Linked DNA regions of Homo sapiens. The protein of the gene in region 1 purifies or fractionates together with the protein of each later gene. This does not show direct contact. Each region holds a gene or a part of one and is shown in the gene's direction. Other genes may lie near its edges.

What was found.
Region 2: the proteins of CPSF6 (region 1) and PCF11 fractionate together in Homo sapiens (co-fractionation; 2 studies listed by BioGRID). This does not show direct contact.
Region 3: the proteins of CPSF6 (region 1) and P3H1 purify together in Homo sapiens (affinity purification with mass spectrometry; 2 studies listed by BioGRID and IntAct, with this or other methods). This does not show direct contact.
Region 4: the proteins of CPSF6 (region 1) and SAFB purify together in Homo sapiens (affinity purification with mass spectrometry; 2 studies listed by BioGRID and IntAct, with this or other methods). This does not show direct contact.

Annotation. Positions count from the first base shown.
Region 1 is NC_000012.12:69,242,544-69,249,569, forward strand, and holds part of CPSF6 (cleavage and polyadenylation specificity factor subunit 6), read left to right. Parts: intron 1-7,026. UniProt on the Homo sapiens protein: Component of the cleavage factor Im (CFIm) complex that functions as an activator of the pre-mRNA 3'-end cleavage and polyadenylation processing required for the maturation of pre-mRNA into functional mRNAs.
Region 2 is NC_000011.10:83,167,112-83,174,137, forward strand, and holds part of PCF11 (pre-mRNA cleavage complex 2 protein Pcf11), read left to right. Parts: intron 1-13; coding exon 14-197; intron 198-303; coding exon 304-787; intron 788-1,316; coding exon 1,317-2,884; intron 2,885-4,706; coding exon 4,707-4,803; intron 4,804-7,026. UniProt on the Homo sapiens protein: Component of pre-mRNA cleavage complex II, which promotes transcription termination by RNA polymerase II.
Region 3 is NC_000001.11:42,750,012-42,757,037, reverse strand, and holds part of P3H1 (prolyl 3-hydroxylase 1 isoform 1 precursor), read left to right. Parts: intron 1-582; coding exon of another isoform or gene 583-637; intron 638-1,400; coding exon 1,401-1,490; intron 1,491-1,820; coding exon 1,821-1,873; coding exon of another isoform or gene 1,874-1,941; intron 1,942-2,047; coding exon 2,048-2,169; intron 2,170-4,373; coding exon 4,374-4,501; intron 4,502-4,668; coding exon 4,669-4,764; intron 4,765-6,701; coding exon 6,702-6,852; intron 6,853-7,026. UniProt on the Homo sapiens protein: Basement membrane-associated chondroitin sulfate proteoglycan (CSPG). Has prolyl 3-hydroxylase activity catalyzing the post-translational formation of 3-hydroxyproline in -Xaa-Pro-Gly- sequences in collagens, especially types IV and V.
Region 4 is NC_000019.10:5,626,074-5,633,099, forward strand, and holds part of SAFB (scaffold attachment factor B1), read left to right. Parts: intron 1-331; coding exon 332-416; intron 417-7,026. UniProt on the Homo sapiens protein: Binds to scaffold/matrix attachment region (S/MAR) DNA and forms a molecular assembly point to allow the formation of a 'transcriptosomal' complex (consisting of SR proteins and RNA polymerase II) coupling transcription and RNA processing.

The DNA of each region.
Region 1 (7,026 bases):
GGGAGGAGGCACAAGGGACTGGCTACTCCTTATGGGTTCTCTTTAGTTCTTAGAGGTCTTTGGATGTCACCAAGCTGAGAACAGCTGGAAGGGGAATTTGAACATCTTCCAAACCTCTCTATTACTTGAAGTTGAGAAGAAAGTGATTCTGTCTCACAGTAGCATATCAATTCAGTTTAAACTGCATTTATACTCAAGTGTAGTAATTACTAGCCCAATATTTAGTAATTGTAGATTTTAAAATTCTGGCCAAAACTAAATAATTTAAAAGTTGAATTGTTTAGCGCGAGTGTGGTGGCTCATGCCTGTAATCCCAGCACTTTGGGAGGCCAAGGTGGGCAGATCGCTTGAGGTCAGGAGTTGCAGACCAGCCTGGCCAACATGGTGAAACCCCATCTCTATCAAAATACAAAAATTGGCCGAGTATGGTGGTGCCTGCCTGTAATCCCAGCTAATCAGTAAGCTAAGCAGGAGAATCGCTTGAACCTGGGAGGCAGAGGTTGCAGTGAGCCAAGATCGGGCCACTGCACTCCAGCAAGACCCTGTCTCAAAAAAAAAAGATTGAATTGTTCAAAATACATTTGTTGAGTGTCTGTTATGTGCCAACAACGAGGGATACAAAGTTTAGGTAGTCTCTACCCTTAGAGTACACTGTAGGGGAGCTGAGAGATACCTACATACAGTAGTGCACACGTATCCACAGTTCCACTTTCTGTGGTTTCAGTTACCCGTGGTTCTGAGGTCTGAAAATATTACATACAATAAGGTAGTTTGAGAGATACTATATTTAGCTAACTTTTATGACAGTAAACTGTTCTACAATCATGTGTCGCTTCACGATGGCGGTATGTTCTGAGAAGTCCATCTTAGGTGCTTTTGTCATTTGTGATCATAGAGTGCTTTTGCATTTCAAACCTGGAAGGTACAGCCTACTACACATGTAGGCTATATGGTGTAGCCTGTTGCTCCTAGGCTACAAACTTGTACAACATATTACTGTACTGAATACTGTAGGCAGTTGTAACACAGTGGTATTTGTGTATCTAATATATCTAAACAGAAAAGGTAAGTGAAAATCTTGATATAAAAGATAAAAAGTGGCACACTTGTGTAGGGCACTCATGAAAGGAACCTGCATGATTGGAAGTTGCTCTGGGAGAGTCAGCAAGTGAGTGGTGGGTGAATGTGAAGATCTGGGACATGCTGCTGTAGACTTCATAAACACTGTACAGTACACTCAGGCTACACTAAATTTATTTAAACTTTTTTCTTCAATAATACATGAGCTTACTGTAATGTTTTCACTTGATTGATTATTTTCTCACTGTCATCCAGTCTGGAGTGCGGTGGTGCAGTTGTGGCTCACTGCAGCCTTTATCTCCCAGGCTCAAGCAGTCCTCCTGTCTTAGTCTCCAGAGCAGCTGAGACTACAGGCATGTGCCACCATGCCTGGCTAATTTCAAATTTTTTTTGTAGGGATGAGGTCCCAGCTAGTCTCCAGCTCCTGGGCTCAAGCTGTCTTCTTGCTTTGACCTACCAGTGTTGGGATTACAGGCGTGAGCCACTGTGACTGGCCCGTTTTTACTTTATAAATTTGGACTCTTCAATAATAACAGTTTAAAATACAAACACATTGTGTAACTATATAAAATATTTTCTTTATATCCTTATACTGTAAACTTACTTCTTTTTTTTGTTTTGTTTTGTTTTGAGATGGAGTCTCGCTTTGTCACCCAGGCTGAAGTGCAGTGGCGCGATCTTGGCTCACCGCAACCTCTGCCTCCTGGGTTCAAGCAGTTCTCCTGCCTCAGCTGGGATTACAGGCACTCACCACCATGCCTGCCTAATTATTGTATTTTTAGTAAGAGACGAGGTTTCACATGTTGGCCAGGCTGGTCTCGAACTCGTGACCTCAAGTGATCCTCTTGCCTTGGCTTCCCAAAGCGCTGGGATTACAGGCATGAGTCACCACACTGGGCCTAAACTTTTTTCTATTAAATTTTTTTTTTTAACTTTTAAAATTAATTTTATTTTAGAAGAGACAAGGTCTTACTGTGTTGCACAGGTCTCAAACTCCTGGCCTCATGTGATCCTCTTGCCTCAGCCTCCCAAAGGAGGCTGGAATTACAGGCATGAACGACTGAACCTGGTCTTTTTTTTTTTAAGCTTTTTTTAAAAACTAAGATATACACACATTAACCTAGGCCTGCACAGGGTCAGGATTATCAATATCACTGTCTTCCATCTCTGCATCTTGTCCCACTGGAAAGGTCTTCAGGGGCAGTATGATGCATGGGCTGTCATCTCCTAGGATAACTGCCTTCTTCTGTAATACGTGGTGAAGGACTGACTTGCCTGAGGCTGTTTTACAGTTAACTTTTTGAAGTAGGAAGAGTACACTCTAACATAATGATTAAAAGTATGGTATAGTTGGCCTTGGTGTGGTGGTTCACACCTGTAATCCCAGTGCTTTGAGAGCCTGAGGCGGCAGATTGCTTGAGGCCAGGAGTTCGAGACCAGCTTGGCCAACATGTCGAAACTCCGTCTCTATTTAAAAAAAAAAAAAAAAAAGTGTAAAAACAAAAAAGTATAGTATAATAAATACATAAACCAGTAACACAGTCGCTTATTGTCAAGTATTGTGTACTGTACATAATTGTATGTGCTATTCTTTTATATGACTGAGAGCACAGTAGGTTTGTTCACACCAGCATTACGAGCCCAAACGTGAGGAATGCATTGGGCTAAGATCGCTAAACAATAGTAATTTTTCAGCTCCATTATAATCTGACCACCTGGACCAAAACATTGTCATGCATGACTAAATTGTTCTCTTTTATTAGTTATTTTTTACAGTGCCTACTTTATAAATTAAACTTTATCGTAGGTATATATAAAGAAAAACATAGTATATTTAGGGTTCCTTGCTTTCCGTGGCTTTAGGCATCCACTGGGGGTCTTGGAACATATCCCTCTCAGATAAGAGGGGACTACTATAATTATAGCACACTGACAGGTCCTATATTGTAGTTACCATTCTTTTATGTTTTATGTGTAAAGTTTTGTTGATCTGGAGAGGAAAGTCAAAAAAATTCTGTGAACTTTAGGGAAACTTACACTGCTTGCATTGAAGTAGTATGTTTTGTTGCTTGTTTGGGAGTCAGAAACTCTTAATGTGGAATTTAGTTTCTGCTCTGTCAGGCCATCACCGATAGCACAAATTTAGTAATCTGACCACCCAGCTTTAAAATGGAAGTGTAGGCCAGGTGCGGTGGCTCATGCCTATAATTCCAGCAGTTTGGGAGGCTGAAGTAGGCGGATCACTTGAGGTCAGGAGTTTGAGACCTGCCTGGCCAACATGGCGAAACCCCTGTCTCTACTAAAAATACAAAATTTAGCCAGGTATGATAGTGCACACCTGTAATTCCAGCTACTTCAGAGGCTGAGGCAGGAGAATTGCTTGAACCTGGGGGGCAGAGGCTGCAGTGAGCTGAGATCAGGCCACTGTACTCCAGCCTGAGTGACAGAACGAGACTTTGTCACACACAAAAATAGATTAATTACTTTTAAAAGAATGGAGGTGTATAGAGGCAGTAGTTGGAACAAAGAATTCACTTAGGAGTTACGGACCTGGACATCCGATAAGTCAGTTTTTATGTCATGAATCATTTTGCTTTACGTTCAGTCATTATGTATGTATTCTAGCCAATTGTTGAGCCAATTAATGAAAATAAATTTCTTGGACAAATATCAGAGAAACATTGTTTATGATTTATTTATGTTTACTAGAAAACCATCTGAAATAAAGCTGTCAGGTTGAGAATGAGCTAGGTAGAATTGATTCAGAAAAATGGATAGAAATGTTCAGGGAAGCTAGAACTCTTCTCTATTTTGTTATTTATGGGTGCAGTTAATTTAGTTGCCTGTGAATTGTCCACTATGGTTTATGTGGCATATTTTTAGTACCAAATTCCTTACCATTATATAAGGAAGGGATTTTTACAGGGATTACTAGCCAGTTTTAATAACTACTGAGAACATAATTAGATAAAACCAGAAAATGATATATTTTCTTTAAAAATGTATGCATTAGGTTATCTGCTATTGGATTTTGCATACTAGTATTTCTTTTCCGAGGTATAGGATATATTTTGTAAATGCAAAATGTAACTTCCCCCCTTCATATATTTCTCTAAATGGAAATAATTTAAAATAGGCTTTGAAACAAGTGGCCTTTGCTGTGCATTTACTGATAGTATCATATAATGCACGAATTTTGTATGTATTTATGTATTTTTATGGTAGAGATGGGATCTTCCTAAGTTGCCCAGGCTGGTCTTAGACTCCTGGGCTCAAGGGATCCTCTTGCCTTGGCCTCCCAAAGTGGTGGGATTAACAGGCATGAACCACCATGCCTAGCCTCGAATGATATTACTGTAATTTTAGAACCATCAAAAAAATATCAGGCCTGTCAGGGAGAATGATGAATATTTTGACAGCCAACAAGTTCATCCCAATAGTGGTATACAGTATGTATCGTATATCTGTGATATTAAAATTGTAAGAGGGGTAATTAGGGAAAAAATGTCTAAAAGTAACTTCTTGAAGGGAGGGAGGAGACAGGGATAATGAAAAGGTTGAGAAGCCATACTTTAAGGGAACTAATAGGATTTTGGTCATTTTGCCATCCATTTTCTCTGGCTTGGCAACAGATATTTGTATATCATGTGGAGCATAATCTTGTTGTGTAAAATGTTGAGAGAATACCTTGTCTAAAGAATGATTGTAGTGATTTAGAATGGTAGGGAATGAAAAAAATTAGTGAGTTTTTTTTTTTTTTAAACAAACCCTAAGAGCTGTTGTTTATTCCAAGCTTTATGTAACATAGCTGGCTAGCTACTATGAACAGCAGATAAGATTGGGCAACATTTGGTATCAAAGATAATTAGAGGAATGATGTTGATATTTTCTTGTTTTTTGAATGCCATTAAAATTAAAAGTAATAATTGAAAAGACCCTTCATGTAATAAAAAATGATACCGTGAAATATTTCTTTGACAAACTGGAAACCTTTTTTTTAGTCTGTTCAGTAGGCTCACAGAGCTTTATTTATATATGACCTGTGATATACATTTTGCATAATTTCTCATGCAAACATCATGCATATTTTCTCACTTTATGAAGTAAGAACAAAGTTCAGTATGTTCTGTATTTTTTTTTACGCTGGAGGATTGATGTGATATGAAGCTGATTAAAAGGAAGGTTACTGATAACTACAAAAGAGTGTGCTTTGAGTTTCATTTTTAGTAATGGCAGCAAATGTATTCAGATTCATTATGTTTTTTCACAAAGTTTAAATGTATACCATTGGGGCTAAGTGTACAGGCTGTGGCCTTGGAACAGAGAGAAGCTAACTAGTCCACATGGAGATCAAACCCCAGGACCATGGTCTTAATTAGGATCGTACTACAACCACTTGGAAGCAGTACAACTACCAGACAAAATGGCTGATCCTAAATATTGGTAGAATCATATCAATGTGGAAAATTGGTTTGTGTCAACATAGGAATTCATGGATGGACAAAAATAGTAAGTGATTGTGATATACCAGGTTAGTGTAGCTGCAATTATGCTTGTAAATTTTTTGTCTACTTATGTAAACATTTTCACAGGTTTGTAGCTAATAGAAGAAAACAAAGAATCTGTTCACCTATTTATGTAAGTGAAAGTGTAAATTTAAAAATACATTTAGTCCTGCTGTTAATAACCCTTCCATTCTTTTTTACTTTCCCTCAGACCATATATTGTGATTATAGTTTCTGCTGAGGAGGATGGAAACTCAACTCCCTTTGAATAATATTAGTAATTCTACTTGATGTTCAGAACCGGATTGCAAGAGAGTTTAAAGTGCCCAACACCCCTTGTGGGAAACTTTTTAGTATCTTAAGTGCATGGAACTACTGCTGCAGCCACACCGCCTGAAGCTTCAGCCACACTGAAACTTCATAACAAAACTTACCCTCTTTTTTCCTAATTTCTGTGGTCATTGCAATTTGAGCATGTTACTTTGTTTAACAAAAACTCATTTCTTAAAGATTATTTTAGTATTGCTGTACAAACAGAATAAAATTATGGCATTATTCAGTGACTTGTGGTCTTAGTTTCTGCCCTTTGTTAAATTTAGCTTTGTTCTCTGATTTAACCTTGAGATCCCAGACCCCTTATTAAATAAGTCTTATAGACATTCTACCTCGTAACAAGTAAAATTGGTATGTAAAGATTCTGTAACTAGTAAATTGGATAAGTCATTAATTACATAAACGATTACCTGATGATTACTTGAGGTCCCTTTATTTAGGAATATAAATGATATTTCCCCTACTAGGCTTTTTTCTTTTTCTTTTAAAAAGATCTTATTCTCGGCCGGGTGTGGTGGCTCACACCTGTAATCCCAGCACTTTGGGAGGCCGAGGCGGGCGGATCACGAGGTCAGGAGATCAAGACCATCCTGGCTAACCCATCCTGCCTAACACGGTGAAACCCCATCTCTACAAAAAATACAAGAAATTAGCTGGGCAAGGTAGCGGGCGCCTGTAGTCCCAGCTACTCGGGGGGGGGGGGGGGGGCTGAGGCAGGAGAATGGCGTGAACCCAGGAGGCGGAGCTTGCAGTGAGCCGAGATTGCGCCACTGCACTCCAGCCTGGGCGACAGAGCAAGACTCCGTCTCAAAAAAATAAATAAATAAAAATTAAAATTAAAAAAATACAAAATAAATAAAAGATCTTATTCTGGCTCTCCTTTAAATAGCAAAACAGTAGCCTGGGCCCATAATATCTTGTTGCTCTGTTTACCATCATATAACAAATGCTTTTCTCTGGGTCATTCTATCCATTTAGGGACTATTTTGGCTAATAGTCCCTAAAACCATTAGCTCCTCCATATGTGCCATTTGTATAATTCTTTAGTAAATTGTATTAATGGGAGAATCTGTAAGTTACGTCTGAACTTTCAGGTTGTCTTATAATT
Region 2 (7,026 bases), on another chromosome or scaffold:
TTTATGGTTTCAGCTTACAACAGGTTGATGAACATAGTAAACCTCCTCATCTGAGGCATAGGGAGAGCTGGTCAAGCACTAAAGGAATTTTATCACCTCGAGCCCCAAAGCAGCAACAGCATCGATTAAGTGTAGATGCCAATCTTCAGATTCCTAAAGAGTTAACTCTTGCAAGCAAAAGAGAATTACTTCAAAAGGTAGTTACTATGATTAATCCCATGTAGTCATCATTATCTATCGTCTATTTTTTTGGTATTTTTTTATATTTAAAATATTTTATTTCCTTTTATCACCCCTATACAGACGAGTGAACGTTTAGCATCTGGTGAAATTACACAGGATGACTTCCTTGTTGTTGTGCATCAAATTCGACAGCTATTTCAGTATCAAGAAGGTAAACATAGATGCAATGTACGGGATAGTCCTACAGAAGAAAATAAAGGTGGATTAAAAAAGAAACCTCTCTTATCTGATGCTGAATTAACCTACTATGAACATAAAGCAAAACTGAAAAGGACACAGGTTCAGCATTCATTTCCAAGACTTGATCTCTTAGATCCTGATATTTTTGACTACCCTTTGACTGATGCCTTGTTGTCTGGAATAGAATGTGAGCCATCCAAAAGTAAACATGCAAGTAGGAATAGTGGAGCACAGTTTGACAGAAAAGAACAATTTAGTGAAAGAGCAAGACGTCTTTCTCCTATATCTGGGAGTCGTACTTATGCTGAGAATCTTTCACCCCATGAGGGCCGGAGAAGACATGACGAGCAAGTCTCTGCTAAAGGTAGAAAAAGTTAAATCAGATTATGCCTATTGAATCACACAGCAGTGAAGGGAAAATGAACAAGCTAAGTGGGGATGGATTTTTGTGACTGTTCAGATTACCATTTTTTTTCCCATTTATTTTGTTATGTTTTTTCCCTTTAAGGAAAGGGAAGGGAAGGGAGCTAATATTTCTAAGGCCAGTTGTGTGTCAGGTACTTCATTAGGTATTTTTTATATGTAATTTGATTTAATCCTCACAACAATACAATGAAGTGTATATTCTCCCTATTTTACAGATAGGAAATAAAAGAGAGGTTAAATAACTTGCTCTCAAAATGAAATAATTAGTATGTTGATAGGATGGTAATTTTTTTGTTACTCAGGTGTGTCTGACTCTAGAGGGCATCCTCTTATCTGCTGCTTTACGCTGTCGGTCTCTCCTGCCCCTCTAATGTAGTGAGATAGTTATATATTTGGATAAACATTCATACGAAAATAGAAGATTTTAAGATAACTTTAGTGAAAATAATTTTTTTCCTTTTTAAAAGGTGTGCGAGAAGAGCAGAGATCTCCATTCAATGATCGTTTTCCACTTAAGCGACCTCGATATGAAGATTCAGATAAACCATTTGTAGATAGTCCAGCATCAAGATTCGCCGGCCTGGATACAAATCAGCGACTTACAGCTTTAGCTGAAGACAGACCGTTATTTGATGGACCTAGTAGGCCATCAGTAGCAAGAGATGGCCCAACGAAGATGATTTTTGAAGGACCCAATAAATTAAGCCCTCGAATTGATGGACCTCCCACACCAGCTTCTCTTCGGTTTGATGGGTCACCAGGACAAATGGGGGGAGGAGGCCCTTTGAGATTTGAGGGGCCACAAGGTCAGCTAGGAGGTGGGTGTCCTTTGAGATTTGAAGGTCCTCCAGGACCAGTGGGGACACCTCTGCGGTTTGAGGGCCCAATTGGTCAAGCAGGAGGAGGTGGTTTTCGGTTTGAAGGTTCCCCTGGTCTGAGGTTTGAGGGATCTCCAGGTGGTTTGAGATTTGAGGGACCAGGAGGCCAGCCTGTGGGTGGTCTGAGGTTTGAGGGACATCGTGGTCAACCTGTGGGTGGTCTAAGGTTTGAGGGACCTCATGGTCAGCCTGTGGGTGGACTTAGATTTGATAATCCCCGAGGTCAGCCTGTAGGTGGACTTAGATTTGAGGGGGGTCATGGTCCATCAGGGGCTGCGATTAGGTTTGATGGACCTCATGGTCAGCCAGGAGGTGGAATCAGATTTGAGGGCCCTTTGCTACAGCAAGGGGTTGGAATGAGGTTTGAGGGCCCCCATGGTCAGTCAGTAGCTGGTCTGAGATTTGAGGGACAACATAATCAACTTGGTGGGAACCTTAGGTTTGAGGGTCCACATGGTCAGCCAGGGGTTGGTATCAGGTTTGAAGGCCCTTTAGTCCAACAAGGAGGTGGAATGAGGTTTGAGGGTCCTTCTGTACCAGGAGGTGGCCTGAGAATTGAAGGGCCTCTGGGTCAAGGTGGTCCAAGATTTGAAGGTTGTCATGCTTTAAGGTTTGATGGGCAGCCAGGTCAGCCGTCACTCTTGCCAAGATTTGATGGATTACATGGTCAGCCAGGTCCTAGATTTGAAAGGACTCCTGGTCAGCCAGGCCCTCAGAGGTTTGATGGACCACCTGGACAGCAGGTTCAACCCAGATTTGACGGTGTACCTCAAAGATTTGATGGTCCACAACATCAGCAAGCATCAAGGTTTGATATTCCTCTTGGTCTTCAAGGCACAAGATTTGACAATCATCCTTCACAAAGGCTTGAATCAGTATCTTTCAATCAGACTGGTCCATATAATGATCCACCTGGCAATGCTTTTAATGCCCCATCCCAAGGACTACAGTTCCAAAGACATGAACAAATATTTGATTCACCTCAAGGACCAAATTTTAATGGACCACATGGCCCTGGAAACCAGAGTTTCTCTAATCCACTTAACAGAGCTTCTGGACACTATTTTGATGAAAAAAATCTTCAGAGTTCTCAATTTGGAAACTTTGGCAATATACCTGCTCCAATGACAGTAGGAAATATTCAGGCATCTCAACAGGTAAGTCTGTTATTCTAAAATTGCGTTGTATGCAGATAAGTTAACCATTTTTTAATGTTTCTAGGAGGGTTTTCAGGACATAGTTTATTGTGTAGATTGGAAAGAAGTTTTTAATGTACTCTAAAGCCACATGCTAAGGAAGTGGGATGAGCATCTTTTGGGGATGAAATTTGCAACTTAAATCCAAAATTGATTTTAGCTCTTTCAGGATCTAGGGAAATATCTCAATCAAACCCCCACCTCCAGCTCTGTTTTTTCTTTTTCCTTTTTTTTTGCTTTAAAGCTTTTGAGATATTATACAATTGTGTGTCATAGACCTCTACATTGCAGAACTGTTGAGCCCTGACGTGCTTTAAGGTAGCCATAGAATTGATTGAACTGTTCTTTGACCAAGAATTTCCTTAACCTGAGTTAAATAAGAAGATCAAATTGTGTCCCTGCTTTCACAGTCTACAATTCTTTTTTTTTGGTCCTTTTTTCCTACTTTTTACCACCTTTCCAGTCACTTCAGTTAAACACAATTGTTTGATATTAATGACAACATAGCGAATAGCCTTCCAAATACACTCTGGTTACGAAACATGCACTGTTACCTGTTGGTATTCTTTCACACTTGTTCTGTATACATTTTAAAATGCATACTGAGACAACTTTAAGGCAGTATGTTTACAATTTGTGATTAATTCGGTTGGTTTTGAATGACTACTTTTGCTTGCGTGCTGAAATTCTCCTAGGCTGAGTTTTACTTCTTTTCCAGGTGCAGACATTTTCTTACTATGACAGATTTATTTTATAGTAGTAAGATTGCATGGAAGAAAATACAAAATAAGAAAGATTTTAAAAGTACATTAGGAACATTATTGATAGAAAGTAGTCCTTCTGTTCATCTCTAATGGTACGAAAAAACAGTTGGCTTGCCTAGATTTACTCTACTGTATATCCTTGAAAGAAATGATACTCTTATTGACAGATACTCTAGAATGGTACTTACTTAGTCTTGTTTCTACATTACACAGAATCGGTGGGGTTTTTATTATGTGTACTCACTACCAAAAGTCCACATGTATACTGAACAAGGATTATAAATGGATATTTATTCACATACCAGCAATATGTAGAAGTCCTGCCTCCCTCTGGACTGCAAATGCTGTATTTGTATGCCAGTATAGTTCTTGCTCCATGACTATTCTGTTTTTTAACATTCCCTTTGACATCTTTTACAAGACCTTTTACAAGATTACTTTGTAATGTGGCTATAACCATGTGCAAAGATGATGGCCAAGCAAGATGCTTACCTGCTTGGTAATTCAGAATGCTAATTAGAACAGGCTTTTGATATCTGTGGAAAAGTGGCAAGGGTTAGGAGTTCTGGCCTCAGTTTTGCTCCTAACTAGCCCTTGTGATTGTGTATAGATCATATTGCATTATGTCAGTTCTTCTATTTGTAAAATAAGGGAAAGCACCAGCAAGGTAAAGTGACTTGTGTAAAGTAACACAGCTAGTTACCTTATATTTGCATGGTATCTTACAGTTTCCTTTTTGGGGGGCTACTTTGCCTCTCTAGTAGGTACCTTAAACTTTTCAAAGAAGTTTTAACCCATTCTCAGTAACTTATACCTCTATGAAACAGATAAGGGAAGGTTTTATTGTTCCTGTTTGTAGAAGACCTAGAAGTGAAGTGATGCAGCCAAGTTATCTTTCTAAATCTTTATTTATAAGCCAGGCCTTGTGACATCTATGAATATTTTTATGTAATTAGGATGTTAAAAGTTTTACTTGAAATATAGAAAGCATGTTCTTAAAATTAAGGTTTTTCTTAAAGGTTCTGAGTGGTGTTGCTCAGCCAGTAGCTTTTGGTCAAGGACAACAGTTTTTACCAGTTCATCCACAAAATCCTGGATTTGTTCAGAATCCTTCAGGTATGTACTTTCTGAACTTTGTTTTTCAAAAGACAAATGATTATTGTTTTGTTGAATAGCTAACTTTGTGAATTTTAGGAAATGACAGTTTTGCAAAGGTATATTTAATTTAGAGAAATTTAATCTGGCTGACATATTTTTGTTCCTTTTCTAAGTTTATTTACATTGTGGATGTGTATTCATAATGACCCTATTTACAGCTAGAGATGGTTAGCGGGGACTTGTAGTCCACTAAACAAAGGGAAGGAAACCTATTGGGTGGAAACTGGGAGTGGGAGGGAAGGTATGACATTTGTGTTGAGATAGAATGAAATAAATGACAGACCTTAGAAATCTCAGTGAATACTGAGGATACTGCATTAATAAAGTTGATTAATTTTTATGTTTTTGTGGGCACTCAAATAGCAAAAAGCGGCTTTCCTAGCCAGGTTCACTGATAAGCATCTTTGTTACTATGGGGTGATGCTTAGTACTAGATAAAAGGACTTTTAAAATGGATTTTAGTTTTATTTATTTATTTATTTATGAGGCAGAATCTTGCTCTCTTACCCAGTCTGGAGTGCAGTAGTGTCATATTGCCTCACTGCAGCCTCTGCCTCCGGGGTTCAAGCGATTCTCCTGTCTCAGCCTCCCAAGTAGCTGGGACTACAGGCGTGTGCCACCAGACTGGGCTAACTTTTGTATTTTTACGGGGTTTCACCATCTTGGCCAGGCTGGTCTCGAGCTCCTGACCTCAAGTGATCTGCCCACCTCAGCCTCCCAAAGTGCTGAGATGGCAGGTGTGAGCCACCATGCCCGGCAAAATGAATTTTAGTTTTAATATGTGGTAATAGGGAAGTACATACATTAGTGATACTTGCTTTCATTTCTGAATCATTGAAACAGCTGTTTCAGAAACATGCTTTACTGTAGTATTGAGTTAATCAGTTTACAATAAATTTATGGAGTTTTCCAAAACTTCTGAAGTAATTAGGAAATCCTAGCCAAGCTCTTTTTTATACATTAGTCCTTAAATTGTGTCAAGAAATTCAATGAATTTGGAAGCTTTTAAGTTTTAATTTCTACATGGACAATTATGACTAATTAATATTTGTTATTATTATTATTTTGTTACTATAATGAAAAGAGAAGGAAAGAATTTGGGATCTAAAGCCCAGAAGACCAGGGTTGGAATCTCTACTATGTTACTTTATAAATGCGCAGGCTTTAAGCAAGTATCTCCCCTGAGGTTCAGTTTTTTCCCTCTGTAAACAGCATATGGGCCGGGCATGGTGGCTCACGCCTATAATCCCAGCACTCTGGGAGGACGAGGCAGGTGGATCACAAGGTCAAGAGATGGAGACCATCCTGGCCAACATGGTGAAACCTCGTCTCTACTAAAAATACAAAAATTAGCTGGGTGTGGTGGTGCATGCCTGTAGTCCCAGCTACTCAGGAGACTGAGGCAGGAGAATCGCTTGAACCCAGGAGGTGGAGGTTGCAGTGAGCCAAGATCAGGCCACTGCACTTAGGCCTGGTGACAGAGTGAGACTCCGTCTCAGAAAAAAAACCAAAAACCAAAAAAAAAACATGATATGGTAGTATCAGTATTTGTCTGTTTTGTTGTTGTTTTTTTTTTTTTAGAGAATCAAATGATATAGTATATGCAAAAGTACTTTGTAACTTGTAACTTGTCAAGTGCTATATTAATGTATTTTCCTTTAGAACTCAGTTTTTATTGTTGAGCAGAGGATTTGTTATATTGGGGTTAGTGGCATGAGATGCTCTACAGAAACTACAAATTTTCTTGTTTCTTTCTTTCTTTCTTTTTTTTTTTTTTTTTTTTTTTTTTTTGAGACGAGTCTTGCTCTTGTCACCCAGGCTGGAGTGCAGTGGCATGATCTCAGCTCACTGCAACCTCTGCCTCCTGAATTCAAGCAGTTCTCCCGGGCTCAGCCTCCCCAGTAGCTGGGACTACAGGCACATGCCACTACACCTGGCTAATTTTTGTATTTTTAATAGAGGCAGAGTTTCACCATATTGGTCAGGGTGGCTTGAATCCTGACCTCAGGTGATCCACCTGCCTTGACCTCCCAAAGTGCTGGGACTACAGGTATGAGCCACTGTGCCCAGCCTTGTTTTGCTTTTACAACCTTGGGTTATATGTGTATGTGTACAGGACATAGCAGTGTCACAGAGGAAATCATAATTATTCCCCTTGTTAGGGGGTATTGAATGGGACAT
Region 3 (7,026 bases), on another chromosome or scaffold:
CCCACGTGGCCAATCTAGCATTTTTAACTAGAAGTCCCCTTTTGGAAAGAAGGCAACTAACATTTGTTGAGCCGCTGTCCAGGCGAAGCTCTGTGCGGGGTGGGCTGTATCCATCATCTCATTTAATCATCACAGCCACCCTGCAAGGTTGGCACTCTTCTTCCCACTTTAGGGATGAGGACTGTTAGCATCTGAGAGATGAAGTAACTTGTGCAGTGGCTTGTGGCCAGTCAGTGGTGACCGGAATCTGTTCCCTGCTTGGACCCAGTGCAGGCACAGCTCCAGACACATGGCTGACACTCAGTAAATCAGCATCGAATGAATAAAGATGGAAGTGGGGTTTGCTTCATAGCAGCCTTATAGGGTCATTGGAGAGGGTTAAATGAGATAACATAGCATTTGGTGACAGAAGCCAGTAATGTAAACTCCTGAAGAGAAAACGTCTCTCTTCCTCTTAGGTAAATATAGTAGATGACATAGGATTCATTGACTCCTTTAATTCCTCCTTGAACTGCCTCATGTTTTATTTCAACTGATGTCTCCTTTTTCTCTTCCTTCCTCCTCCTGCTGCTTGGAGATTAGCAGGGCACCTAGGGAAAGATGTGACCCCGGAAAGTACTCAGTTTCCCTGCCCTGGGTAAGCCTTGCCTGGGAGTCCATGTGGGAAGCCCAGAGTGCCAGGCCCTCCCCTTTAGCTGCTTATCCTCAGGGAGGGGTGTGGTCTGGTTAGGGTCTGAGAGGAGGCAGGTGGCAGAGCAGAAAGCACATGGGCTTTAGGACTGTAAAGACCCGGCTTTATCTGTCCAAATGCACATTCTGCTATGAAAAAAAAGAAAAAGATAACAGAAGACCTGGGTTTGACTGTAGGTCGCTGCTCTCCCATGTCCTGTAGTGTCACCTTAGACAGTGGTACATCTCCTCTGTGCCTCAGATGCTTCCTCTGTAGAATGAGCATACTAGTATCAACCTCAGATGTGGCTATAAAAGATCAAATGAATAACATGTCAGTTGCCTAATGCCTGATTCCTTTTCCTGCTTTGTGGACTCCTGTAGAAGTCAAGAAGGAATTCTCCTTCTTTGAAGAATATTTCCACTTTTGAGAATCATCAGATTATCTGTCCTAGAGACTAATGGGGGTTGGGATGGGGGAGGAGCAGGGCTTTTTCCCTTAAGGAAAGCCTGGTTATTCCAGTACCTCAGAGGTACTGTTGCTTGTGCCAGGCAGAGGACACAGAAATTAGACTTTTGTCTCAAACTGGGGAACAGACAGAGAGCATTGGTAGGGAGAGGAGGCCTCAGGTCACATGGGAGCATCAGTGTGGGGTGCCAGGGAGGGGAACTCCCAGAGGTTAAAAGACAGGGCTGAGTTCTGGGGGATTTGTTTGCTTTTTTACCCTCAGAGTGCCAAGGAGTACCGACAGCGAAGCCTACTGGAAAAAGAACTGCTTTTCTTCGCTTATGATGTTTTTGGAATTCCCTTTGTGGATCCGGTGAGCTAGGGTACAGGAGCCGGAAGGGAGCGGGGAAAGAGTGAGCAGGAGAGATGAATGGGGAGGAGGGGAACACTGTGCGATTCTGAGAGAAAACTTGCTGGAGGCTGAGCCTAGCCTGGGATCTGTGCAAGGCAGGGATGAGAGACAGATGAAAGGGGAACACTGGGCAGCTAGAAGGGACTTAGATGTGGAAACCTCCCATTTTGTCTCCTGAAAGGAAGAGGGTGATAAGCTGGATTACTCCTGTGGGCCTTATTTTATGCATTGAGACACCTGGAAGATTAAGTAGATCATCTTACCTTTTTCATTTCTTCCTGACCTACTTAGGATTCATGGACTCCAGAAGAAGTGATTCCCAAGAGATTGCAAGAGAAACAGAAGTGAGGACCTTGAAGAAACTGCATGGTTGGATCAGTCTGATGAAGCACTTGAGGCTTCCTGAGCCCAGGCAGATGTGAACTCCTGGCAAGGGGTGGGCAGGTCCAGTTTGGGAAGTCGGGGTGGAGCCCAGGGCTGGCCCTGGAATGCAGTCCTCAGAGCGGCTGTGCTCATAGGTCAGAACGGGAAACAGCCGTACGCATCTCCCAGGAGATTGGGAACCTTATGAAGGAAATCGAGACCCTTGTGGAAGAGAAGACCAAGGAGTCACTGGATGTGAGCAGACTGACCCGGGAAGGTGAGAGGACAGAAATAGGGGCATGTCTGGCTGTTGTCAGGGAGCCAGGCAGGTCACCCCACATTTGCCAGGCAGCGCTCCACCCCAGCATTGCAGAGCTCACCATGAGCCAGCCACCCTTAGGGTGCAAGTTCAGTGGACATCCTTCCTAACTCACCAGCGGGACTTTCAGCTGGAAAGAGCACTGAGAATCAGCCTTTGGCTCAGAAATCAGACTCCAGGATGTAGTGGTGCACACCCGTAATCCCAGCTACTTGGCAGGCTGAGGCAGGAGGATCGCTTGAGCCCAGGAGTTTGAATCCAGCCTGGGCAATATAGCAAGACCTCATCTTTAAAAAAAAAGAAAGAAATGAGACTTCTGTGTCACAGAAACATGAGTGACTAGTGTTGTCCACTTCCATAGGTATTAACTCATCCTGTCTCCCCACTCCCAAACTGTTTTCTCCCGGTTTTCACCATTCGTCCCTTTACTGAGACTCAACGCCTTCAGGCCTCCTTTGGCTCCTCTTCCTCCTGTGCCCGTTTTCTGCAAGCTGCTGGGAAGGCCTACTGATTGTGGCTCTGCTCTGCAGTGCTTCTCAGCTCTCTCCCCAGCCTTTTCCGTTTTTCATTGCCTCAGGCTTCCTTCAGGCCCTGGCACCTCCTATCTGCACCCACCCTTTCCCCGTCTGGCCTGTCCTTGCCCCTGCCCACACAAGGTAGCTAGGCCAGTCTTCCAGACACTGGCCTCTGACCCATCCTCCGTGCCTGCCCCTTAACCGAATGTTCTACTCTTGTCCTGTTTACACCGTCTCTTCACACAGGACTGCACTTTGTTCCGTGAGCCCGCCCACTGCCCACCAGTCTGTGTTTATGCCTGGCTCTCCTAGTACGCTTCCCACCATCCCTGCCCATGAGGGCATCTGAGATATACCCTGCAAAGCCTTTCTTTTTTTTTTTTTTGGAGATGGAGTCTTGCTCTGTTGCCCAGGCTGGAGTGCAGTGGTGCAATCTTGGCTCACTGCAACCTCCACATCCCGGGATCATCAAGGAATTCTCCTGCCTCAGCCTCCCAAGTAGCTGGGATTACAGGCATGTGGCACCATGCCTGGCTAATTTTTTTGTATTTTTAGTAGAGATAGGGTTTCACCATGTTGGCCAGGCTGGTCTCAAACTCCTGACCTTGTGATCCACCCGCCCTGGCCTCCCAAAGTGCTGAGATTATAGGCATAAGCCACTGTGCCCTGCCGTAAAGCCTTTCTTAACCTCCCAGATGATTGGAGTCCCCTCCTTTCTTTTGAACTTCTTAGGGCATTTATGGTCTGTCTTATGCTAGTTATTTGCATAATTGTTAGAGAACAGGTACTGTCTTCTAGGATTCATCTCTCACCCTATCTGGCACAGTTCCTGGTACACACTGAGGCCTCAGTTATCAAGTGGAGTTGAACTGAGTCTCTAGTATTAGTATGTCCCTAGCACAGAGAAACACCATGAGAACTGTAAGAGAGAAATGTTGACCTTTGCCCTATAGTTGCTTAAATTAACAGTGGTTAATTAAACAAGATTAGCGTATGAAAAGAATTTGTCCAGCATTCCTTTGTTTTCAGACCACTTTCACTTTGTTATTTCTCTTGATTCTTATAACTGAGAGGTGAGTCATGCAGATTGCAAGATCCTTATTTTAAATGAATAATGATGATGATACCATGGTAGCCAAACTTTTGAGGACTTACCATATGCCAAATATTGTACTAAGCTTTTAACTTGCCTTCCTTGTTCTTAACATTATACTGGCATCAAACATATAAGGTAGATGCTGTTTGACAGATGAGAACATTTTAATTAATTAAAATTAACCTCAGGGAGGTTAAGTAACTTGCCAAGGTCACACAGCTAATCAATGGAGGATCTAGGAGTCAAAGTCAGTTCTTCCTCGTTCCCGAGCTCATGTTTTAGGATTGTGTTTCTGATGTTTCCTCAAGAGTGTGTCATGGCCCAAAAGCCAGCAGCTATTTGGTCATGGAGCTGGGACTGGGAATCTCATCTTTCAGCTCTATGTTCTGTCCTCTGGACTATTCTACCTTTGAAAATGACCTAGCGGGAGATTTTGCTGGTGAAAAGGAAACAGCTGGAATTTCTATTTGTGACGAGGAGGCAATATCCAATGGAGAGTCTTTGGTCTAGCTGCTGCTAGATTTAGCTAGAGTTTTGTCATTGCTTTGCAGGTGGCCCCCTGCTGTATGAAGGCATCAGTCTCACCATGAACTCCAAACTCCTGAATGGTTCCCAGCGGGTGGTGATGGACGGCGTAATCTCTGACCACGAGTGTCAGGAGCTGCAGAGACTGACCAATGTAAGGGAAGCCCAGTGACTGCACCTTCCCCCAAGGGTCCAGCATCCCCCCACCAAGTGCCCCTTGGGTGGTAGCCTTCGCCTTCCTCTTCCTGGCCACAGTTGACCACCTCTTCTCAAGCCCTCAGCTGCCCTGGCTAACATCACCTTGTGTTTTGGGCCTTGTAGGTGGCAGCAACCTCAGGAGATGGCTACCGGGGTCAGACCTCCCCACATACTCCCAATGAAAAGTTCTATGGTGTCACTGTCTTCAAAGCCCTCAAGGTAAGATCAACACTGGGCATTCTAGAGTGTGGAGAAAGGGGTGGGGAAGGGGGAAGCTCAGGCTTTGAGGAAGAGTTGGGGCTGGTGGCAGGAAAGGTGAAGAGGGTCCACCTGCCAACATTCTTGTTGCCAGGAAGCGAGGATGAGTTATGTTGCGTGAGGTTCACTTTTGAATCCTGTTAGACCGAGTGTAATCAAAACAAAGTGAGCAGGATAAGACTGTTCGCCAAAGCTATGAGAATGCTTTCTTTAGAAAGGCTGATTCTAGAGGGCTGTGCTTCTGTGCAGGATGCACAGTGTGCTCATAAAGAGAGATAAGAAGGACAGGAGGAAGAGGAATATAGTAGGGGTATTGGGCGTGGGCAGCAGAGGCTGCAGCTTCAGTGGGGGTGTGGGGACGTGGGATGGGCCTGGTACTCATTGTCTCTGGCCCCTAAAGAGGGGCGTTGTGTTAGTCCGTTTTCACACTGCTGATAAAGACGTACCCGAGACTGGGCAATTTACAAAAGAAAGAGGTTTACTTGGACTTACAGTTCCATGTGGCTGGGGAAGCCTCACAATCATGGTGGAAGGCAAAGAGGAGCAAGTCACATCTTACATGGATGGCAGCAGGCAAAGAGAGAACTTCTGCAGGCAAACTCCCATTTTTTTATTTTTTATTTTTTATTATTTTATTTATTTATTTATTTATTTATTTATTTTTTTTTTATTGATCATTCTTGGGTGTTTCTCGCAGAGGGGGATTTGGCAGGGTCACAGGACAATAGTGGAGGGAAGGTCAGCAGATAAACAAGTGAACAAAGGTCTCTGGTTTTCCTAGGCAGAGGACCCTGCGGCCTTCCGCAGTGTTTGTGTCCCTGGGTACTTAAGATTAGGGAGTGGTGATGACTCTTAACGAGCATGCTGCCTTCAAGCATCTGTTTAACAAAGCACATCTTGCACCGCCCTTAATCCATTTAACCCTGAGTGGACACAGCACATGTTTCAGAGAGCACAGGGTTGGGGATAAGGTCACAGATCAACAGGATCCCAAGGCAGAAGAATTTTTCTTAGTACAGAACAAAATGAAAAGTCTCCCATGTCTACTTCTATCCACACAGACCCCGCAACCATCCGATTTCTCAATTTTTTCCCCACCCTTCCCGCCTTTCTATTCCACAAAACCGCCATCGTCATCATGGCCCATCCCCAATGAGCCGCTGGGCACACCTCCCAGACGGGGTCGTGGCTGGGCAGAGGGGCTCCTCACTTCCCAGTAGGGGCGGCCGGGCAGAAGCGCCCCTCACCTCCCGGATGGGGCGGCTGGCCGGGCGGGGGGCTGACCCCCCCACCACCCTCCCGGACGGGGCGGCTGGCCAGGCAGAGGGGCTCCTCACTTCCCAGTAGGGGCAGCCGGGCAGAGGCGCCCCTCACCTCCTGGATAGGGCGGCTGGCCGGGCAGGGGGCTGACCCCCCCACCTCCCTCCCGGACGGGGCGGCTGGCCGGGCAGAGGGGTCCTCACTTCCCAGTAGGGGCGGCCGGGCAGAGGCGCCCCTCACCTCCCGGACAGGGCGGCCGGCCGGGCGGGGGGCTGACCCCCCCACCTCCCTCCCGGACGGGGCGGCTGGCCGACCACCCCCCCCGGCCTCCCTCCCGGACGGGGTGGCTGGCCGGGCTGAGGGGCTCCTCACTTCCCAGTAGGGGCGGCCGGGCAGAGGCGCCCCTCACCTCCCGGACGCAAACTCCCATTTTTTTAAAGCCACCAGATCTCGTGAGACTTATTCAGTATTATGAGAACAGCACGGGAAAGATCCACCCCCATTATTCAGTCATCTCCCACCAGGTCCCTTCCACAACACATGGGAATTATGGGAACTACAAGATAAGATTTGGGTAGGGACACAGAGCCAAACCATATCAGTCGTTGAGGGCAGCTGACCATCTGTCTCCTTGGCAGCTGGGGCAAGAAGGCAAAGTTCCTCTGCAGAGTGCCCACCTGTACTACAACGTGACGGAGAAGGTGCGGCGCATCATGGAGTCCTACTTCCGCCTGGATACGCCCCTCTACTTTTCCTACTCTCATCTGGTGTGCCGCACTGCCATCGAAGGTGGGCCTCATTACCCCTGCAGCACCCGCCCCCGCATGCTGTACCTCAGCTCTGTGCTGGATGCTGAAGACACAGAGAGAACAGGATGCGGTCCCTTTTCTTCAGTTGGGGAACCAATGTAAATACATGGGTGGCATCCCAGTGTGATGCATGCCACAGTAGCATGGAGGAAGT
Region 4 (7,026 bases), on another chromosome or scaffold:
AGTGCTTCCTTTTCATGGCTAGTAGAGTCCTCACAACAGCCTTCCAGGGTAAGTACTGTATTATTATTAGCCGCATGTTCCAGAGGAAGAAGCAAAAACTGAGCACCTAAGTAAACCTGCCTGGGACCACCCAGCTAAGAACTGGTGGCGTCAGTCGGTCTCCAGTGTAGAGCGAGATAACAGATGAGTGGATGGGCCACAGGTCCTGGGTGGTGAGGGCGGCAGCAGCTTTTTGATCTTAAAAATACAGTTTCCTTGTCACCTGAGAGCTCTCTGAAAGCAGTGTGTGAGCTGACTTTTTGGATCAACTTTACTTTTCCCTTCTTTTTAGGCAATTGAAGATGAAGGTGGTAATCCTGACGAAATTGAAATTACCTCCGAGGGAAACAAGAAAACATCAAAGAGGTCTAGCAAAGGTATGGAGGATTTCATAAGCAAGTTTCATGTTAAGTGCTTTCTTCAAAACGAATACATTGCTAATGTGCCTCGTTTACTTGTCTGTGTGTTGGACTTGTGAACCACTCTGAACTGGGAGCCTTCAGCGAAGCTTTGCATTTTCTTTCAAGATCTCTCTACTGTGTTTTGTTTTCTTGGTATCTGGGAATTCCAATGGAGGATGGAAGGAGTATTTGTCCTTTATTCATTTTCCTCTGTAGATTGTCAGCGGTCCTTAAATAAGGAGTCTTTTGGGAGTCAGTCACAGTGGCGTGTGCCTGTAATTCCAGGCGACTCGGGGCTGTGGTAGGAGGATCACATGAGCCTGGGAGTTCAAGACCAGCCTGGGCAACATAGCAAAACCCAGCTCTACAAAAAAACTTTTAAAGGCCCGGTGTGGTGGCATGCATCTGTGGTCCCAGCTGCTTGGGAGGCTGAACCGGAAGGATTACTTGACCCCAGGAGGTTGAGATCAGCTTGGGCAACATAGGGAGACCCCCATCCCCACCAAAAAGAAATTAGCCAGGCATGATGGCATGCACCTGTGATCCCAGCTACTTGGGAGTTTTAGGAGGGGGATCACTTGAGCCCAGGAGCTCAAGCCTGCAATGACCTAATGATTGCACCACTGCACTCCAGCCTGGGTGACAGAGCAAGACCCAGTCTCTCTTAAAAAAAAGGGGGGTGGGGGCGGGGCACAGTGTCTCTCACCTGTAATCCCAACACTTTGGGAACCCAAGGCAGGAGAATGGTTTCAGTCTAGGAGTTTGAGACCAGCCTGGGCTGCCTCTATCCACTGCCAAAAAAAAAAAGTACCTAGGCGTCGAGGCACGCCTGTTTTCCTAGCTACTTGGGAGGCTAAGGCGGGAGGATCATTTGAACCCAGGAGTTCAGGGTTGCACTGAGCTATCATGGCACCACTGAACTCCAACATGGAGTCCAAAAAGTAGGACTGCCTGAGCCTCCTATTGCTTGGACTTGGAGAAAATAACATCCCTTATAAACAGCACTTGGCAAAAACAGAATTGTCACTTTAACATTTCTTTTAAAAGCAGCTTATACAGTAAAAGTCACATTCCACATGACATGACTCTCACCATCTTACCGAAATCTCTCTTGCCCATCCCCCACACCCTGTGCTTTAGTCAGGCCCCAAACACGTGATTTACTCTCCTGGTTCTCTGTGACTTCGCTCCGCCCACCCTTCCCCATCTGTCTGCCTTAGAGACCTAGTTCCTCAAAAGACAACTGATCCATCCCACCAATAGCAACTCGTCTCCTTGGGTCCTCTGTCCTCCCGTGGCATAGTTCCTTACCCCTTGGTTTAATATTTATGTCATCTTGCCTTCTGTCAAGAGCAGATTGATGAGGACTAGGGCTGTGTCTTGTTTATCTTTCTTTCCCCTTCAATGGTTTAACTTGGTAACACTCAACTATTGGCTTAAGAAAGAATCAGCTGAGGCAGGGCGCCGTGGCTCACACCTGTAATGCCAGCACTTTGGGAGGTTGAGGCGGACTGGTCACCTGAGGTCAGGAGTTCGAGACCAGCCTGGCCAACATGATGAAACCCCGTCTCTACTAAAAATATAAAAATTAGCCAGGTGTGGTGGCGGGCTCCTGTAATCCCAGCTACTCAGGAGGCTGAGGCAGGAGAATTGCCTGAACCCAGGAGGTGGAGGTTGCACTGAGCCCAGATCGCACCACTGCACTCCAGCCTGGGCGACCGCAAGACTCCATCCCCCTAAAAAAAAGAATCAGCTGAAGCTGGGCTTGTAGACCGAATGTTCTCTTGGTTCATGTAGAGTTTTCCCTATCTGAAATGCTTGGGACCAGAAGGGTTTCATTTTTTGGATTTTGTGCGGTATTTTCGTACGCATAATGAGATAATCTTGGGATTGGGGCCCAAATCTAAACAAGAAATTTGTTTCTTATACACCTGAAGATAATTTAATACCATATTTTTTATAATTTTGTGCATGAAACAAAACTTTCACTAATTCCACACATCAGGTGTGGAATTTTCTACTTGTGGCAATATGTCAGTGCTCAGAAGGTTTCAGTTTCAGATAGGGTTGCCCAACCTGTAATTGAAGGCCTGGTTCTCAGGGCCCAAAACTAAATGAGATAATAACTAATACTTGGTGGTGAAGTACTGGGTTTAAATATCTGAGAGTCAGGCCCCAGTGTCAGCCACAGTGTTTGGGGTAAGTGCTGGGAGAACAGCAGAATGAAGTCACTTCTGTGGCTCATGATACATTGCGTGTTTTTGCCTTTACTCAAGTATACTTCTGCCAAGGCAAAGAGTCCTGGAAAATCAATGGAGAAAGAAATAATAAAAGCAAAAAACAGAGCCTGTGGATCTCCTTTTTTGTTTTCCTTTTTCTTCTGATAAAAGCAAATACTTGTACTACAGGCTTTTGTTGCTGTTTTTGTTTTGTTTTTGAGGTGGGTTCTCACTCTGTCACTCAGATGGAGGGTAGTCGCGCAGTCATAGTTCGCTGCAGCCTTGAACTCCTGGCCTCAAGCAGTGCTTTCACCTCAGCCCCACAAAACGTTTAGATTTCAGTTGTGAGCCACTGCGCCCGGCAGGTTTTAAAATACGTGCATGGGAGTAAAAAGCAGAAGTTGTTCACAGTCGGGACAGCCCACTACTAAAAGTTAGGCATACTTCTCCAGACTGTGTGTGTATGTACAATGTTTAAAAGTAAACTTAGGCCTGGGTTACAGAGCAAGACCCTGTGTCTAGAAAAACAAAAAGTTAAATAAAAGTCAATGAGCTGGGCATGGTGGCACACACCTGTAGTCCCAGCTACTAGGGAGGCCAAGGTAGGAGGATTGCTTAAGCCCAAGAGGTCAAGGCTGCGGTGAGCCATGAGTGTGCTTCTACACTCCAGCTTGGGCACAGAGTGAGAGGGGGAAAAAAGTAAATATATAGGTATGTGCACACACCTGTATGCATATTTTTTTCATTAAAAAAACCCGTGATCTTGCTATACAAAATCTCACTGTTTTTTAACAGGCTAATAATCTTCTGTATGAATAAATACACAATTTAGCCCATCAGTCTTTTTATTACTAGACGTTTGGAGATTTTTATTTCCAATTATCACTCGGTACTTCCAACATTCAGTGTTTGCACGAACCAGAGATAAATACCTTTGTGTGGTCAAAGTAATATAATTTTTGATAACTTAGTGAAAGGAGAATTCTAGACTCCAAGGATATGGCCCTTTATTTTCACATAGCTAGTTTACAAATAGCTGTCCCGGCCAAGTTCAGTGGCTCACGCCTGTAATCCTAGCACTTTGGGAGGCTGAGGTGGGCGGATCAAAAGATCAGCCTGGCCAACATGGCAAAACCCCACGTCTACTAAAAATACAGAAATTTGCCAGGTGTGGTGGTGGGCGCCTGTAATCCAAGCTACTCAGGTGGCTAAGGCAAGAAGATAGCTTGAACCTGGGAGACTGAGGTTGCATTGAGCCAAGATAGTGCCACTGCACTCCAGCCTTGGCGACAGAGTGAGGCTGTCTCAAAAACAAAAACAAAAACAAAAAGCTGTCCCAGGTTGTACCCTACCAACAATGGGTGACGGTGCCTATTTCACTAAACTCAACATCAAACTTACCTTGTTTGCCTGTTACCTTGTTGCCTGTTATATAGAAGAAAAGTATTTCATTGTATTTATCTGCATTTTTCTGCAGGTGAGATTTTCGTTTGCATTTCTTCACAGATTATACTCTTCTGATAATTGGACATTTGTGTCGTCTGAATGGCCTTTTCATGCCCTTTGCCGATTTCTGTGCTGGGTTGTTTGTCTTATTGAGTTATAAAGACTCATATAAAATGTTTCTATTGTTTTAATCTGTCATTCAATTTAATCTGATTCGACTTGTGGTATTTTGATCACTAGGCTTCTAGATTTTATGTTACGCTTTAAAAGGACTTCTTTGCTTTTAAATTATTAAAAATATGACTGTAAGGCCAGGTGCGGTGGCACACGTCCGTAATCCCACGATGCAGGTGGATCACCTGAGGTCAGGAGTTCAACACCAGCCTGGCCAACATGGTGAAACCCTGTCTCTACTAAAAATACAAAAATTATCTGGGTGTGGTGGCAAGCGCCTGTAATCCTAGCTACTTGAGAGGCTGAGGCAGGAAAATCGCTTGAACCCGGGAAGCAGAGGTTGCAGTGAGCCGAGATCACGCCACTGCACTCCAGCCTGGGCGACGAGTGAAGCTTCGTCTCAAAAAAAAAAAAAACTATATGTATAACTCTGTTATATATAGAAAGAATAATATTTATGGTTTTATTTTTACATTTTACATTTGGAGGTTTAATTAATTTAGAATGTATTTTGCATGTGGTGTGAGGTAGGTAGGGATGAAAACATGAAACATTTAGGCTGGGCGTGGTGGCTCATGCCTGTAATCCCAGCACTTTGGGAGGCTGAGGCGGGCAGATCACCTGAGGTCAGGAGTTCGAGACCAGCCTGGCCAACATGGTGAAACCCCGTCTACTAAAAATACAAAAATTAGCTGGGCATGGTGGCGGATGCCTGTAATCCCAGCTACTCGGGAGACTGAGGCAGGAGAATCACTTGAGCCTGGGAGGCGGAGGTTGCAGTGAGCTGAGATCATGCTGCTGCACTCCAGCCTGGGCAACAGTGCAAGACTGTGTCTCAAAAAAAAAGAAAAGAAACATTTGTCATCAGAAAGATCACTTCTGCCCCTCCCAGTGCGTCTCCCCTCCCAGCCCCTGCAAAAATAAAAGTCGCTGTTGTGATTACTTCACCAGATATTAGTTTTACCCATTCTAGAACTTCATGTAAAATGGAGCCATGCAATACTAGCTCTTTTGTGTCTCATTTGTTGTTTTGTTTTGCTTCTTGTAATCAGTTTTATTCTAGAAATTTACAGTACATTTTGATATCTGATAGGGCAGGTCGGTAAGTTTTCTTGAATTATTTTCAACTACTTTATCAGTGGGTTTTATCAAGATTTTAACTGAAAATAGAGGGACTGCTGTAATGTGTGAATTCAAAATGCTTTAAAATTCCAGAAAGCATATCTCATGTAATCTCAGTTCTCCTCCTATTGCTTGGACTTGGAGAAAATGACATCCCTTTTAAACAGCACTTGGCCAAAACAGAATTGTCACTTTAACATTTTTTTTAAAAACTGCTTATACAGCAAAAGTCACATTCCACATGACGTGACTCTCACCATCTTAGCAGACTCTCAAAATAATTATCAGGGGCTGTGCGAGATGGCTCTCGTCTGTAAGCCCAACAGTTTGGGACACCGACGCGGAAGGATGACTTGAGCCCAGGAGTTGGAGAGCAGCCTGGGTGACATAGTGAGACCCCATCTCTCCAAAAAATTAGAAAAATTAGTCAGATGTGATGGCGTGCATCTGTAGTCCCAGCTACTCAGGAGACTGAGGTGGGAGGATCACGTGAGTCCAGGAATTTGAGGTTGCAGTGAACCATGATTGGGCTGTGATTGCTCTCCAACCTGGTAACAGGGCAAGACTCTGTCTCGAAAAAATAAAATAATTACCAGGAAACTAAATTTATTTGTAGTGTCATCACAAAGTACAAATTAATAGGATGTTTTATGGTGTTTGAGAATGTTTTGTAACTGGAGATGCAAAGTTGGCCTGTTTGCTTGGTTAAGTATTACCCAATCCTTTGCTGCTGGCTTGTTTTGTTCAGTTTTTGTTCATTTTGGCAATTTCATACTTAAGTTGCAAGAATAATGCAAGGAATTCCCATATACCCTTTACCCAGAGTCCCCAAATATTGCCATCTGACTACATTTGCCTTGTCCTTTTCTCTCCTTGTATGTATGTTTTTACTAGACCGCATGGTAAGTTGCAAGGCGCATATGCCCCTTTGCCCTACGTACTGCAGTAAAGTAAGGATATTACCTAACTGTAGATGTCCAGATCAGGAAATTAACATTGATACAATACTGCCACCTCGTCTTAGTCCTCATTTAGATTCAGTAGTTTGTTCCAATAATATTCTCTATAACTCAGACAAAAAATGTCCAGAGTCATGCATTGCATCAGGTTGTCATGTTTCCTTAGTTTTCTTTAATCTTGAACACTTACACTTATTTTGTAGTTTATTTTTCTATTTGAATTGTTTTGGGTTCTCCCCGCCCCATAATAAGGATCAAGTTATACGCTTGTCAGAAATACACCAGACATGTTGTATTCCTGTTTTTTGTTTTGTTTTGGTTTGAAACCGGGTCTTGCCCTGTTACCCAGGCCAGAGTGCAATGGTGCAATTGTAGGTCACTGCAACCCTGAATTGCTGTGCTCAAGCGATCCTCCCACCTTGGCCTCCCAAAGAGTTGGGATTACAGACATGAGCCACCACGCCCAGCCTATATTGTCATCAGAGTATACTATCCAGAGGCACATGCTGTCAGTTTGAGCCATTATTGGCCATGTTAGCTGACTTCAAATGCTATTGGCCAGGTTTCTCCACTGGAAAGTTACTGTCTTCCTTTTCACAGTTACATTTGTGGGGAAGATACTCTGAGACTTTGTAAATATCCTGCTCATCGTCCATTAGTTTTAGC